2 separate regions of the Homo sapiens genome follow, and region 1 is linked to region 2. Evidence: fine-mapped expression QTL. A gene starts in region 2. The other region holds a variant in brackets. All regions are shown on one strand. Distances are between the middles of the regions.

The links. PIP is the estimated chance that this variant, and not a neighbour inherited with it, causes the effect.
Region 1: its variant is fine-mapped to the expression of TEF in whole blood (TOPMed, PIP 0.96).

The regions. Positions count from the first base shown.
Region 1 is chr22:41,332,063-41,340,385 of GRCh38, reverse strand. It overlaps ZC3H7B (zinc finger CCCH-type containing 7B), which reads right to left. Exons shown (of 23, transcript NM_017590.6): 7 at 8,159-8,215; 8 at 2,031-2,073; 9 at 1,195-1,385; 10 at 249-570. Among named protein-coding and RNA genes, the nearest start is that of ZC3H7B, 35 kb to the right of the region's middle. The variant C/T (reference allele first, on the strand shown) is at 3,128.
Region 2 is chr22:41,378,056-41,386,378 of GRCh38, reverse strand. It overlaps TEF (TEF transcription factor, PAR bZIP family member), which reads right to left and starts at 4,437. Exons shown (of 4, transcript NM_003216.4): 1 at 4,178-4,437. The coding sequence starts at 4,334. LOC105373042 (a long non-coding RNA gene) reads left to right here and starts at 4,468. Exons shown (of 3, transcript XR_938271.3): 1 at 4,468-4,639. RefSeq lists enhancers at 3,599-3,678, 4,460-4,754 and silencers at 3,889-4,588, 4,619-5,218.

The DNA.
Region 1 (8,323 bases), 46 kb after region 2:
GAGTCTAGAGGCCTGGACTGTCGCAGCTCTCCTCTGCTTGATCTTGAACAAGACACCCACCCCTCAGGCCCAGCCCCACACTGTGCTGAGCACTGCAGAGACGGCAACACACAGACATGGCCTGGGATTGCTAAGGAGTGATGGGGACAAACAGATCTGTAACTCAACTCCACTCTCCAGGCACCAAAGAGGCCACAGCACTGTGCAACCTGTCCAGGGAGGTTGAACGGGCCCACCCATGGCCTTACCCATGAAGGAGTCAGGTTTGTCCAGGGAGCCTCGTGTCGACCCAAAGCTGTCGAGTGCATCCAGCCGGGTCTCCGAGTACGGCAGCAGGTCCAGGGGGTCCAGCGTGGGGCCCGGGGGATCGAGGGCATCCAGCACAGAGGCGGCCAGCTTCTTGGAGGGGTCCATGACCAAGCCGAAGGAGGCGGGGGGCAGTGGGCTGGAGACAGGGATGGAGCCACCCACCACAGGTGGTAGCAGTGGGGTCCCGCCGGGGAACACGGGTATCAGCTGGGGCAACTCACTAGGCACGCCGCTGCCAGACAGGCCACCCTGGACCAGAGACTATGAGGCAGGGACAGAGGGAGGGGTCAGAGGAAAACAGGACTGCCCAGGCCTGGGCAGCATCAGGACTTGGGGAAGCAAGGAGACCTGCACCCTGTCGCCTGGCTTCATCCTGTCCCATGTGGGAGCAGGGCTCACTATGGTCCCTTCTGGCCAGACATTGTGCAGCTTCATTTCTTTTTTTTTTTTTGAGACGGAGTCTTGCTCCACTGCCCAGGCTGGAGTGCAGTGGTGTGATCTCGGCTCACTGCAACCTCCGCCTCCCGGGTTCAAGCGATTCTCCGGCCTCAGCCTCCTGAGGAGCTGAGACCACAGGCATGTGCCACCATGCCCGGCTAATTTTTGTATTTTTAGTAGAGAGGGGGTTTCACCACGTTGGCCAGGCTGGTCTCGAATTCCTGACCTCAAGTAATCCGCTGCCTTGGCCTCCCAAAGTATTGGGATTACAGGCGTGAGCCACCGTGCCCAGTGTGCAGCTTCATTTCTGTACCAAACAAGTCCCTACTGAGGCCTCCTCCTGAGACACATGACATGAGCATTGGGGCCTTCCCTCCACCCCTGGGACAATGGGGACACAGCGGGGAGAGGGGATCAGGGGAGCACAAGGAGGGTGGTGTGGCTCACCAGCGAGTCCAGGAGGGTGTCCAGCTCTGGGCCAAAGACATCCCCGTCTGAGAAGTCATCCAGGCTGTCGGTGCTGGGGAGGGTCCTGCTGCTGTCCAGGGGGGCCAGCAGGTCCAGAACGTGAGGGAACAGGGGCATCGTGGGCGTGGAGGGGAGAAGGGCTGGGGAGCCTCGAGGGTCCACGTAGCAGTCTGCGGATGGGGTGGGCAAGAGCCGAAGGGGAGCACTGCTTGGTGAGGGTGGAGGAGGCGTCCCGGGCCCCGTGATGCTCATCCAACACTTTCCCTTCTTCTTTCAGCTCTTGCCAGGAGCCCTGCCTTCCCCATCGGCTGATCCCACTGGCAGATGCTCAGGGGGTGGTCAAGGAAGGCCACAGCCCCAGAGCAGGGAGGGGCCCTCAGTCCTATGATGTCAATCCTTGGCCCAGGCTCAATGCCTAAATGTCCACCACTGCTGCCTCCTTCTTCTGGGGTAAGCAATGCCCTCTCCAGGGGACACTCTTAAAAGGCAACCTTTTCTGGAAGCCAATGAGGAAGAGGAGGGGAAAGGGCTTTGGAAGAGGTGGGGGTGTGCAGGCAGCCAGGAGTGAAGGCCATGGGACTGTTGCACCTAGCTAAGAGGCAGCACCCCTCTCTGCCAGACTAGAGATGCCCTCCCCTCCTTGAGTGGGTCTGTAGCTCTCAACCCACTGTTTTCTCCCATGCCTCAGGGAGTACCAGGGTGGGGAACCCCTCGGAGGCCCTCCCATCTACAGGGCTGGGATGGGGAGGGGGCTCGACTCCCCTGACCTCTCGGGGCCCCAATTTCCACTTGTTCCCTCGTATCGGGGACATTACCTGTTTCGATGTCATCTATGGACCCCAATCCATTAGAAGTTCCCTGTGGGGAGAGGGCCACAGTGGCGCTGTGGCTGGGAAGGCCCCGATCCCAGCACCCAGCACCAGCCCCTCCCCACGTGACTATGCTGTTGACCCAGCACCGAGGAGCACTTAGAGTGCCAGGGGAGATTAAAGCCCTCACATGCGGCCAGGCGTGGTGGCTTATGCCTATAATCCCAGCACTTGGGGAGGCTGAGGTGGGTGGATCACCTGAGGTCAGAAATTCAAGACCAGCATGGCCAACATGGTGAAACCTCATCTCTACTAAAAATACAAAAATTAGTCGGGCATGGTGGCAGGAGCCTGTAACCCCAGCTACTTGGGAGGCTGAGGCAGGAGAATGGTTTGAACCCAGGAGGTGGATGTTGCAGTGAGCCGAGATCATGCCACTATACTCCAGCCTGGGCAACAGAGCGAGACTCTACCTCAAAAAAAAAAAAAAAAAGCCCTCACACGTGCTGGGTCCTCACCCCTGTGGTGCCCAGCAAGGGGCTGGATGGGCCAGCAGGTGGGGGCATGGGCTCAGTGGATCCCCACAGCTGTCCCTCTAGGGAGGGGTGGTTGAGGGCAGGGAGAGAACCTCTGAGTCTTGGTTCCACCCACCACAGGGCAGGGTCCTCACCCCGGTGAAGGTGGCAAGGGTCTTAGCAAGCCTCCCCCCACAGCACCACAGATGGCCTGCAGTTCAAAGACAAAAGTGCCCCCTCCCTGAGTCCCCAGGCTCTCCTCTCCCACGGTAGCCCCAGGCCCCCCAGGAAGCAGAGAAGGGCATAAACCCAGGTGGGATCCCACTGCCTTCCTGCTGGAGGAAAGCTGGGCCTGAGCAGGCTGTACAACCTGGGCAAAGTTCCCCATCCACTCTGGGCCTGCTTCACTCACCGCTGGGGAAGGCTATCAGGATGAAATGACTTGCTATGTGTGAAGTGCTTAGAACGGGGCCTGGCACACAGGAAGTGCTTTGTGTTTTGGGTTTGTTTTTTTTTTTTGAGACAGAGTCTCACTCTGTTCCCTAAGCTGGAGTGCAGTGGCATGATCTTGGCTCACTGCAACCTCTA[C/T]CTCCCGGGTTCAAGCAATTCTCCTGCCTCAGCCTCCCGAGTAGCTGGAATTACAGGCACCCGTCACCACGCCTGACTAACTTTTTTGTATTTTTATTTTGTATTTTTATTTATTCTTTTTTGAGATGGAGATTTGCTCTTGTTGCCCAGGCTGGAGTGCAATGGTGCGATCTTGGCTTACCGAAACCTCTGCCTCCCAGGTTCAAGCGATTCTCCTGCCTCAGCCTCCCAAGTAGCTGGGATTACAGGCATGCGCCACCATGCCTGGCTAATTTTTGTATTTTTAGTAGAGATGGGGTTTCTCCATGTTGGTCAGGCTGGTCTTGAATTCCGGACCTTAGGTGATCCACCTCCCTCAACCGCCCAAAGTGCTGGGATTACAGGCCTGAGCCACCACACCCAACTTTTTTTTTTTGAGATGGAGTCTCGTTTGGTCACCCAGGCTGCAGTGCAATGGTGTGATCTCAGCTCACTACAACCTCCGACTCCCACATTCAAGTGATTCTCTAATCTCGGCCTCCTGAGTAGCTGGGATTACAGAAGCATGCCACCATGCCCAGCTAATTTTTGAATATATATATATATTTTTTTTCTTTGAGATGGAGTCTCACTCTGTAGCCCAGGCTGGAGTGCAGTGGCACGATCTCAGCTCACTGTAAGCTCCGCCTCCTGGGTTCATGCCATTCTCCTGCCTCAGCCTCCAGACTAGCTGGGACTACAGGCACCCGCCACCACGCCTGGCTAATTTTTTGTATTTTTAGTAGAGATGGGGTTTCACCGTGTTAGCCAGGATGGTCTCGATATCCTGACCTCGTGATCCACCCGCCTCGGCCTCCCAGAGTGCTGGGATTATAGGTGTGAGCCACCGCGCCCAGCTAATTTTTGAATTTTTTAGTAGAGATGGGGTTTCACCATGTTAGCCAGGTTGATCTCAAACTCCTGACTTCAAATGATCCACCCGCCTTGGCCTCCCAATGTGCTGGGATTACTGGCGTGAGCCACCGTGCCCGGCCTGTGTTGATTAGATGCACAGTTTCTGGAAGTTGGGCTGGGAGAGCTGCTGTTTCGTTCAACAGTTCCCACACTCCAACCTCCAGGCTGTGGTGCATCCTTCCCTGTCCTGAACACCCTCCCCTTTTTCTCTGAGTCCTTCACAGTCCAGCTCAAGTCCTGCTTCCCTGGTGAGGCCCTGGGTGGCCCCACCCTTTCTGTGTCCCCACGGAGAGCCGGATGGAGGACCAGACTCCACCACTAGCCTTCCTTTCCCAGGACCAGCAGCCACAGGACCAGCAGCTAGACTCATCCAGCATCCTGCCTCACGCCAGCCCAGGCCAGCATCTCACACCCACTGTGGGGTTTAGCCCTCGGTCCAGGCGCCCTGCGAGGTATCATCCCACGGCATGGAAATGTCAGCCCAGAAAGCTGCTATGCACAGATCAGAGCAGGGCTGTCTGACCCAAGAGCCTGTCCTGACTCTGTCCCCTGGAACTGTACACTCCCCCATCCATACCTGCACCAACACCCTGCACCTCCTTCCCACACCTGAGCCTGCCATAGAGCACATGGCAAATGTGTGCACTTCAGTCTCCGGAGTGTCTGCCCACCATAGATTGGCTGCCAAACCAAGGCCGCCACGCTGGATCACAGAGCTGCTATCCTCATGGTAAGTACATAAAGTCTTTGAGGGAAAGAGAGGTACCAGATGAACATCTCTAGGGAAAGCGGTGATTCTCCCTGCTAGATCCTGCCCATGGCTCCCAGGCCACGCAGGACAAAGTCACCTTCTCAGCCCTCCTGCCCATGCCATCACCCCAGCCTGCCAGGCTCACTGTTCCTGCCCTTCTGCATGGCACTCCTTCTGGTGACATCTGTTTGGCAACAAAGGTCTATGGAGCTCTATCTCTTCTGCAGACGCCCTGCTGGGAGCTTTCACATTGACCCATTGTAATTCTATAACCCCCACAAAATGGCAGGTACCGGACCCCTGCAAAAGAGAAGGAAGCCAAGGCTCTGAGGGGTGGAGTGGCCTGCGTAGATAAGGAGCGTGCTCAGGATCTGATCCAAAGCACGTTCCACTGCAGAGCCCAGGCTATTCCGAGCCCCATAGGAGGAACTGGTCTTGTGATCTGGGGTGTCTGTCTCTTTTGCTGCTTAGCCTTTGTGCAGGCTGTGCTCCTGGTCATGAGTGCCATTTCCCCCTCTCCAGCTCTCCCTTCCTCTTAGTCTTGCTTCCCTGGCTCGCTGAAGCCCTTTCCAACCAAGGCTGCCTTGGGCTCTCTGTTCCTGGAACTCACAGCCCTCCTTGCATCTTGTTCCCCACGATGCCAGGGACAGCTCTTGCACAGACACTGTCTTGCAGGGCCTCTGCCTGGCTCCTAGGTCATAAGAAGCTCCCTGTGGGCACAGCCTGGTCCATCCCCACTTCCAGGTGCACATGTGAAATGACCAGCCGGCTGAATGAATATGGTGCTCATGGTGGAGAACCTACAGGGACCCCTGCAGCCTGCATTTACTTGTGTCTGTGCACAACTCACGGAAGGCCAGGGGCTCTGGCTGGGACACCACCCTGCCCTCATGTGTCCTAGGGCACTCCGTTTGTGCATGTGCACATGTGTGTGCTCACATGTGTGCTGTACCATGTTGGGCAAACTGAGTTCATGAGGCAGGGTCTGAACTGGTCCTCTCCACTGTGGGCTTCTTAGAGCCCTCCCTAACCATGCCCTCCTGACCTCTATGAATGTGCAGGAGGAGCCCAGCAAGATTGCAGGGATGGGTGAACAGCCTGGCAGGGACTGGGGGGGGCCTGGTGCCAGGTATGGCACCATCTGTGGTCATCTGGCTGCAGACTAAGCAAGGCTTTGCGGCCTTGGCCCTGGAGAGCTGGGCATTCAGCCCATATTTGCTGTGGCCCCCTGGCCGCAGTCATTCAATCATTCAACAAATATTTTTTGAGCATCTGCTGTGCCTGCCCAGCCCAGCTCCACTTGCTGTGATGAGACGCTACCTTGGTGCTCTATTCCCAGTGTCTGAACTGACACTGGGTACAAAGCAGTGCTCAATAAATACCTTCCGAATAAATGAATAGAATTAATGCTGCCTCCCCTCAATGCCTTCCCAATGCTAAGACTGAGCTTCTTATCAGGGGTCAAGCGGTCTGGCTTCTATCTCCTGTTCCAGGACCCCCAGCTCTGCCTTGGTGTTGGTTCCTCCCACACTCTGAGCTCCTCCAGGCCTCAGGGCCTTTGCACATACCTTCCACCTGGTCTGGAATGCTGTTTCACCTGCACACCCTGCCCCTAACTCTTCAACCTTCCGGTCTCAGCTTAAATGTCACTGAATCCTGTCTAAATCAGGGCTCCCAGTCTCAATGGCCCAGGTCTCCCCATACTCTGCCTTCACAGCCCTCATCACAGTTTGAAACCAGAAATGATCTGCCTAATGTCCTAATGTCCATCCTAGACTGTGAGCTCTTTGAGGGCAGGAAACAGATTTGTTTTGTTTATCACATACCCAACCCCAAGCTCAGTGCTTGGCCCATACTGGGTAAACTTAGACAAATCACCTTTCATTCATTTAATGTTTTCTCGTTGGAGCACCTGGTATGTGCCAGGCCTAATAATTTCTTTTATTTTTCAGATGGAGTCTCATTCTGTCTCTCAGGCTGGAGTGTAATGGCGCGATCTCGGCTCACTGCAAACTGTGCCTCCTGGGTTCAAGTGATTCTCCTGCCTCAGCCTCCCAAGTAGCTGGAACTACAGGCACATGCCACCATGCCCGGCTAATTTTTGTATTTTTGGCAGGGATGGGGTTTCATTATGTTGGCCAGGCTGGTCTTTAACTCCCGAAATTAAGTGATCACCCACCTCGGCCTCCCAAATTGCTGGGATTACAGGCATGAGCCACCATGCCTGACCTATAATTTCTGATTATAAACCATGAGTGCTACAAAGGCAGATCATCAACTGCCTACTTTGCAGGCTGGGAGGTCCCTGAGGGCAAGGACGCAGCTCTCTCAGGCCCAGGGCCGAGAGTGTTTTGTGGGCCTCCTTATGGAATGAATGAAAGAAAGTGCTGCAAAGCTCTGGAGGAGGGAGGCCTGCTGCTGCCTCGCTGTGTGACACTGGCCCCGTCCCCTCCCCACTCTGTGCCTCAGTTTCCCTTAATGTACAAGGTGGCAGGACCCCAGGCTCCATCAGTGCTCTTATAGCCCATCTCTCACTTTCCAGAAAGCCTCAAAGTCTACCTGAGCAGCGGGCAGGGGTCTCAGTCGTGTGCCAGGCCCTGCCTCACCCCCCTGGGATGAGCCAGGCCTGACTGGGGTGCACAAGTGTCTTGGCCCTTGGGAGGAGTCCCCAACTCAGGACAGCACAGCAGCTATCCACAGTGACTGCCCACTGCATTTCCTGCTGGGTCGTGTGTGCCAGGTTATCAAGCACTTTCCTCCCTTGTTCCCGTTGAGGGATGGTCCGCATTTCAGAATGCAGAAACTGAAGGACCTGCCCAAGGCTGCAGGGCCCAGTTGGGCTCTTCCTTGTCAGAGTCCTCAGTCTCGGCTGCCCCTCCCAAGCAGAGTCACTGAGCCAGGGAGAGCAGGATGGGTTTCGGCAGGGGCATGCCCTTGAGCTGGGCTTTGAAAAGCGAAAAGACAGAGAAAGGCAGGGTGGGGAAGAGGAAGACATTTGAGGCCCAGGGGCCTGAACCTGCAGAAAGGCTGGTGAGAAAAAAGGCAACACAGCAGGAAATGTGGGGCAGGAGGCAGAAGGAAGGCGTGTGGGACCAGGCTGCCCAGACTGTGTCCTGGCCAGGGTTCAAGAGTGAGGCTGCCCCCGGCGGCTCCCCGGCAATGACCACTCCCTGCCAACAGCAGCCATGGCCTGTCCCCACATCCTGCCCCCGTGGACACGGGAGGTACCTCCTAGGGAGGCGGAGGCCCCTGGACCCACTGCCTGAGGTCATTTATACCCGGAGAGAGTGAATCCAAACCTCTCATAATGGATAAACTGAGACAGGTTGGTTCAGCCCCGATCCTACCTGATCTGCCACGCCAGCCGCAGTGCCGTTACTGAGCAGAGAAAAGGTTTCCAATTCCTGCCAGAGATTGGAGAGAGGTGGGCAGAGGTAAAGATTCTGAAAAGATGCTCAAGGTCCCCTTAGCTGGGGCAGCAAAGAGGCCCTGACACAAGCAGCTGGGGTCTG
Region 2 (8,323 bases):
ACCTCCGCCTCCCTGGTTCAAGCGATTCTCCTGCCTCAGCCTCCCAAGTAGCTGGGATTATAGGCATGCGGCACCACGCCTGATTAATTTTTTTTGTATTTAGTAGAGACTGGGGTTTCAACATGTTGGCCAGACTGGTTTCGAACTTCTGACCTCAGGTGATCCACCTGCCTTGGCCTCCCAAAGTGATGGGATTACAGGCGTGAGCCACTGCACCTGGCCACAGGGTTAATTCAGAATAGCCTGTAGCACTGGCCAGGTGCGGGGGGGTCAGGATTGCAATCCCAGTACTTTGAGAGGCCCAGGCGAGTGGATCCCGAGGTCAGGAGTTTGAGACCAGCCAGGCCAACATGATGAAACCCTGTCTCTCCTAAAAATACAAAAATTAGCCAGGTACCGGGGGCGGTGGCTCACACCTGTAATCCCAGCACTTTGGGAGGCTGAGGCGGGTGGATCACCTGAGGTCAGGAGTTTGAGACCAGCCTGGCCAACATGGTGAAACCCTGTCTTTACTAAAAATACAAAAATTAGTTGGGTGTGGTGGTGGGCGCCTGTAATCCCAGCTACTCAGGAGGCTGAGACAGGAGAATCACTTGAACCTGACAGGCAGAGGTTGCAGTGAGCCAAGATCATGCCACTGTACCCCAAGTCTGGGCCACAAAGAGTGAAACTCCGTCACAAAAAAACAAAAACAAAAACAGAATAGGCTGTAGGATTAGCATCTGCAGGAGAGAGACTACAAGGAGGGAAATGGAGTCTCTGACCTTTCCTGATACCTTAGCTTAGAAAGGGCTGAGATCTTCAGGCCAAGAACTTCTGTGTTCCCCTGTCCTGTTCCCTCCAGTTATGCTTCTCCACAGCAACCCAGCCCAGGGAGGAGTCCCATTTTTGCCACTTGCTGTTTGATGTGTGACCTTAGCCATGTTACTTAACCTCTCTGAGCCTTGGTATCCTCCACTGTACATAAGGATAAAGATGTTTCTTTGGTGAAGATTAGAAATAACTTTTTTTTTTTTATGAGAAGGAGTTTCGCTCTTGTTGCCCAGACTGGAGTGCAATGGCGCGGTCTCAGCTCACCACAACCTTCGCCTCCCGTGTTCAAGCGATTCTCCTGCCTCAGCCTCCCAAGTAGCTGGGATTACAGGCATGCGCTACCATGCCCGGCTAATTTTGTTTTAGTAGAGACAGGGTTTCTCCATGTTGGTCAGGCTTGTCTTGAACTCCCGACCTCAGGTGATCCATCCACCTTGGCCTCCCAAAGTGCTGGGATTACAGGCATAAGCCACAGGGCCTGGCCAGAGATAACATTTGAAAGTGTCTTTACAGCCATGCGCAGTGGGATCACGCCTGTATCCTAGCACTTTGGGAGTCCGAGGCGGGCAAATCACCTGAGGTCAGGAGTTTGAGACCAGTCTGACCAACATGGTGAAACCCCGTCTCTACTAAAAATACAAAAAATCAGTCAGGAATAGTGGTGCATGCCTGTAATCCCAGCTACTTGGGAGGCTGAGGCAGGAGAATTGCTTGAACCTTGGAGGCGGAGGTTTGTAATGAGACGAGACTGTACCACTACACTCCAGCCTGGACAACGAGGGCGAAAGTCTGTCTCGAAAGAAAAAAAAAGTGTCTTTACAGTGTTCCTGGCACACTGTAGGCATCATTGTTACTGTGGGCTCACTGAAAGTATGAACTGATTTATTTCCAGATCTCAAGGGCCCAACAAGGGGTAGGCAGACGGTGGACTATGGGAAAATATATATACTAACTGTAGAATATTGGATTTGCAAACAGATTCAGGTTAGGTTTATTAGAAAGGGCCTGGAGCTGTCTTTTCAGGACCCTTTTCAGAGCAACCATTTCAAGAGACCTTTATTCCTGAATAAGCAGAAAAGACTGAAGGCAGGTTTTCTGGGAGGAAGGAGAGGGGTGGAGTTGAAGAAGAAAGACTGCTCCTATTCAAAGGAAAACTAATCAATTAGTGGGGACTGGATCTACCCAATTGTCTCAGTCACAAAGTTACACATGTGGATATCCAAGAGAGGGCAATTAAAAAAAGAGAAGAGAGCAATGTGACAAGGTTGGAAGGAAATCAAAGTGACAGGGAGGCTAATCAGGGAAGTGGGAGATAAAATCATGACAAGCTCATGATGGGTTTTCAAAATTGAGGGAGACAATTTTGAACTCTGGATTTATAAGTGAAAAGGAGAAATCAAATATGATTAAGTTGGAAATAAACCAGCCACACATGGACTCCCAGACCAAATAGCAGCTTGTTGGTCCAATAAAAATGAACACACCCAGTGAGTTAAGAAGGTGGAGGTTTTGACAAACAACTTGGTCATGGCTTTCTAATACAAATTAATCTGAATTCCTGCAACTGCTTTCTATACCAGGCTTTGGTTTAAAACCAACTGAGAAGTAAGAAAGTCAAGCCTTGGTGGGCTGGGTGGGCCAGATGGCCTTCCTGCTCTCCTCCCTTGAGATCTGGACTCCTCACTCTGTTCAGAAATGACTGTGACCCATGTCGGGTGGGGTCATTTGGGATCAAAGGAGGCAGGAGAAGGCAGGAGATAGAAAAGCAGCCATAGTGAAAGACAGGCAACAATAAGTTCCAGGTTTTGCCTGGCCTAAGCAATAAAGGATACTTTAAATCAGTGTTTTTGTAAGGTGGAATTTTAAATTGTAAGAGATAAAGGACTAGTCCATCACTCAGGTCATGCAACAGTGGCTGCCAGCATGATACAGTAGAAAGAGCACCAAACTGAGGGTCAAAAGTTATAGCTGTGTGACCTTGAGGAAGCACCCTCACCTCCCTGAGCCTCAATTTTCCTCATCTGGGAAGAGGGGAGAATACCCTCTAGGACTGTTAATGAAATAAGATGATGTCAGCGTGCTTTGCGAGCACTCTACGAATATCGGGTAGAATTCTTGTTATGGATGGTTATTACCTGGTAATTTCAAACAAGAAACTGTCAGATGTGTACACCTGTCCCTGCAGCTTGTCTCAGCCCCAGATTTGGAACAAAGCACCGTCTCAAAAACAAACAAAAGGGTTTGTGCACATGAGGTCCCAAAGCAGGAGGAGAGAGGCTGGCCTCACCTGATGTGCTGAAGCTATTTATAACTCAACAGTGACAGCCACAGGGATGGGAGCCTCAGCATACACCCAGGAAAGGAAGAGAAATGGCATTTTAAAAAGGAAAATCCATTCCCCAGGCCAGACAACTCTCGAAGGCCTATCCCTTTCCCAAACCCTGAATAACTGATGGCTCTTGGAAATGCAAAGGTCTCACACTCAAAGTATACCTCAGTGCACCCACAACCCCACCACAGGCGGCCCTCCTGCTGCTCCCTGCACCCCATCTCCCAGGGCGAAAAACAAGGCCAGACCTGCTTTCCGTATACGCCCCAGTGACGTTCCTGGCCTAGGCAAAAAGATGAAGCTCAGTCCTGCCGCCGTGGCCCCAGAATCTAAGGGTCAGCCCCAACCAACCAGGCGAAGGGCCTCAGTGGACTCATCTGACCCTCATCGTTTCTCTGCTTGGCCCAAAACTCCCCTCCCAAGGCGCCTCACACTACTCGCCCACACCCCCCCCACCCGCTCAGCAGAAGCCCCGCAACAGAAAGGCTCCCGTTGGACCTAGTAGCTGGCGCTACTCACACCCAGGGAGGAAGCCAGGTCCCTCCGGGAGGGGTAAGGCCACGTACGATGACAGTTCGCTACCCTAGGCCTGCGCTTCCTAAACTTTGGTGTACTTGGAAAATAATGGGGGTGCGGTGGGGTGCTCCTTAAAATGCAAGACCCCTGTCCCAGTGACCGCAGATTGGGTGGGGCGCAGGAACCAGCAATTTAAACAGGCATCCCGAGTGACTCCGATGCAGGTGGCCCCGGGGGAGGGGCCCTGGAGCGTCATTTAAGTGACTGCTCCCGATCCCCTTCCGCCTCCTCAAAACCTCTCCCCACCCTCTCCCGCCAGACCCACCGTCTCAGCCCGCCCCTGACCCTCTGTCCTCAGCCCCCCGGCCTCGTCCTCCAGGCTCCTGGTCATCCAGGCCCCATCCCCCTCCGCTGGACCACTGCTCCCTGACCCACTGCCTCCCCGGCCCCGCCCTCACGAGGCCCCGCCCCTGTATAAGCCCCGCCCCCAGCCCGCGCGGACCACCCCCCCGCCCTCACCGAGGCGCGCCTCGCGCGGGGGGTTCTCCATCAGCTTCTTCAGGACCAGGGGGAAGGACCCCGACAGGCCCCTTTCCCCAGCTGCGCGCCCCGGCCCCGGACCGGGTCCTGCCTGCGGGTCCACAGGCGGCTTCTTTCCGCCGCCCGCGTCGGACATCGTGCCCCGGACTCGGCTCGCGCACCTCGCCTCCCCCGCCCGCCCCCCGAGATGGGCCGGAGCCGTGCGACCCGCTGCAGCTGCCGACACGGGCAGCTACTGCGCAGGCGCCCAATGGCGCCCCCGCCTCCTTCCATCGCTACCCCGCCTGCGGACCGGCTCTGGCACATTAATTATTCATGAGGCCAGGCCAGCTTCCCCGGATCGTTGCTCTGGATTGGTCCAGCCTGCGAGAGGGGCAGGCGCAGATCCTCGGGCCGTGATTGGTCGGGCAGCCGGGATAAGATAGACACGTGCGGGGCCAGGTGAGGACCCTCGCGGAGGCCCCGCCCCGCCGCCCCTGTGTCCCCTGATTGGCGCCTGCTGGAGTCTTTGTGGTGGGCCTTCCTCGGCGCGGTCCCTTCCCTCCTACCAGTGTTCCCCCTTCACCGCCCTCTTCATAACCCCCGCCCTCCCCAACCACCGCAGCCTCTCCCTCTTGTCCCCGACTTGCAACCTTCCCGACGCGCCACCGAAGAGGGGCGGAGCTCGGAGCGGCCAGGCCGGCCAAAGCGACCTATCCGAGCTCCTGCTCGCGCGGCGTGTCCACCCCCCGCGGGTCACGTGGAGCCGCAGCCGAGTCTGGTCGCGGGGGGAGGGGGCAGAGGAGGAAGGCGCGGGAACAGCCAATGGAGGGCGGGGGCGGGGCCCGGGGCGGTGCACGAGGCGCCGCACGTGCGGGGCTGTGGCGGGGCGGGAGGGGAAGGGAGGGACGGGTCTTTTTGTTCTGGGGACTCTGCCCAGGGTCGCGGGGCAGGGACGCTGAGCTTAGCCCGCACTTCTGCTCCCACGCGACCCAGAGGTCGCCTGAGGGCAGGGCCGGGGACCGCGACCTGCCAAGTCGTAGGGATGGCCTGAGCAGGCTTGGCCGCCCTAGAGCGGGGTGTCGGGTTGCCCACGCATCCAGATCAACACTAGCGTGGAGGGAGCATTCCTGAAGCTCTGACCTGAGCCAGGGCCCGAGTACATGTTTCCGCCCTCCCACTTACTAGCTTATGACCTTGGGAAAGTCCGGTTGCTTCACTGGAGCTTGTTTCCTCGGCCATAAAATTAAGAGGTTGGGCTAGAGAATCTCCACAGTCCCAAACAGATGTGAAATTCTTTTCCTTTCTAGAACTCTCCCTTCTTTTACCTAGAAAACAAAAACCTCCTTGACACCAGGTACCGATGCCACGTTTTGTGGGAGAACCACCTCCTCTCTTAAAATATAAAGCCTCCCCGGGAGTTCCGCAGAAATCCGTAAAAATGTAATATGTGGCGCGGTACACAAATGGAAAGCTGCTCCTAAACAGCGCTCAGAACTTTGTACCTCTTTATAGTACAGATCAGACTCCGCTGCAAACCCAGGCAACATTAGACTCCCCGCTTAACTCCCGGAAGGCAGAGAGCTTGGCTTGTTTATCCAGCATCCCTACAGTGGCCCAGCCCTTCTAGCAGGAGGGGTTGGGGGGGTGGTATAGTGATAGTCCTTGGTTCAGGGGGTAGATGCATGATCCAGACACCCACAGCCAGCTAAAAGTTATCAAGCTGATGCAATCAGAATTTTGCTGGGGCTGGGCTTGGTGACTCACGCCTGTAATCCCGGCACTTTGGGAGGCAGAGGTGGCGGATCACCTGAGGTCAGGAGTTCGAGACCAGCCTGGCCAACAGGGCGAAACTCCGACACTACTGTAAGTACAGAAATAATTAGACGGGCATGGTGGCTGGCGCCTGTAATCCCAGGTACTGGGGAAGCTGAGGCACGAGAATCGGTTTGAACCTGGGAGGTGGAGGTTTCAGGGAGCCGAGATCGCGCCACTGCAGTCAAGCCTGGGCGACAGAGGGAGACTCCATGTCAAAAAAATAAATAAATAAAAATAATTTTGCGGCGGGGTAAGGAGGAAAAAGAAGTTGGGTAGCTGACCAGGCCTGGAAAGCAAGAGATTTGAAGGACTTTGGGTGGTGGTAGAGACAGGATGATAGGTCTGATTCCAAAATTCAAGCTCTCACTGCCACTGTAATTGAACCTCAGTCATTTTCTGAATCTGATGCCTCGATTGCTTTACCTTTTCAGGCCTCCTTTTCTTTTTATTTTCTTTTCTTTTCTTTTCTTTTTTTCTTTTTTTTTTTTTTGAGACGGAGTTTTGCTGTTGTTGCCCAGGCTGGAGTGCAATGGCGCGATCTCGGCTCACCGCAACCTCCGCCTCCCAGGTTCAAGCGATTCTCCTGCCTCAGCTTCCCGAATAGCTGGGATTACAGGCATGCGTCACCACGCCCGGCTAATTTTGTATTTTTAGTAGAGACGGGGTTAATTTTGTATTTTTGGTAGAGACGGGGTTTCTCCATGTTGGTCAGGCTGGTCTCGAACTCCTGACCTCCGGTGATCCACCCGCCTCGGCATCCCAAAGTGCTGGGATTACAGGCGTGAGCCACCGCACCCAGCGTTTTTTCCTTTTATGCCAAATGGAGTTAGGGCAGGCTCTACCTTATGGTGTTTTTGTTTTTTGTTTTTTGTTTTTGAGACGGAGTTTTGCCCTTGTTGCCCAGGCTGGAGTGCAATGGCGGGATCTCGGCTCACTGCAACCTCTGCCTCCTGAGTTCAAGCGATTCTCCTGCCTCAGCCTCCTGAGTAGCTGGGATTGCAGGCGTGCACCACCACGTACGGCTAATTTTTTTTTTCTTTTTTCCGAGACAGAGTCTCACTCTGTAGCCCAGGCTGGAGTGCAAATGGCGGGATCTCGGTTCACTGCAAGCGCTGCCTCCCGGCTTCCCGCCATTCTCCTGCCTCAGCCTCCGGAGTAGCTGGGACTACAGGAGCCCGCCACCGTGCCCGCCTAATTTTTTGTATTTTCTATAGAGACGGGGTTTTACCACATTGGCCAGGCTGGTCTCGAACTCCTGACCTCAGGTGATCCACCCGCGTCTCCCAAAGTGCTGGGATTACAGGCGTGAGCCACCGCGCCTGGCCTACCTTACGGGGTTTCTGTGAGCCAATTTGCGTAGGCGCACAGTTGCAAACCTTCAACAAATTTAGTTTTCATAATTTTACTAAAACTGGTTGGCATATCCATTATCCCAGAGGTTAGTGTGGTGCCTGTGTCACTCTCTGTAGTGAAAATAGTTAATTGTGTACAGAAAATTTGTTGTGTTGTAGAATTGTTAGTGAGAATTCTGTGTGTGGCGAAACTTAAACACCTTTAGGGGAAGCTAACCTAGACAAAGGACATTCCAAGGAAACTGATTAAACCAATACAGGGCTGGGCGTGGTGGCTCACCCATGTAATCCCAGCACTTTGGGAGGCTGAGGCAGGCGGATCACCTGAGGTCAGGAGTTCGAGACCAGCCTGGCCAACGTGGTGAAACCCTGTCTCTATTAAGAATATAGCCGGGCACAGTGGCTCACGCCTGTAATCCCAGCACTTTGGGAGGCCGAGCCGGGAGGATCACAAGATCAGGAGATCGAGACCATACTGGCTGACAGTGAAACCCTGTCTCTACTAAAAAATACAAAAAATTAGCTGGGTGTGGTGGCGGGCACCTGTAGTCCCAGCAACTCGGGAGGTTGAAGCAGGAGAATGGCGTGAACCCGGGAGGCGGAGCTTGCAGTGAGCCGAGATCACGCCACTGCACTCCAGCCTGAGCGACAGAGCGAGACTCCCTCTCAAAAAAAAAAAAAAAAAAAAGGCAAAAGTTAGCTGGGCGTGGTGGCGAGTGCCTGTAATCCCAGCTACTCGGGAGGCTGAGGCAGGAGAATTGCTTGAACGTGGGAGGCGGAGGTTGCAGTGAGCCGAGATCGTGCCACTGCACTCCAGCCTGTGGGACAGAATGAGACTCTGTCTCAAAAAAAAAAAAAAAAAAAAAGGAAGCTAAGGAAGCTTTTTAAAAAACCTGCTAGTTTGGCCATGAGGAGACTTGATGGCTTAGAATCATACCTATATAGTCTCATGGCTAATACGACATTATTGCTGGGA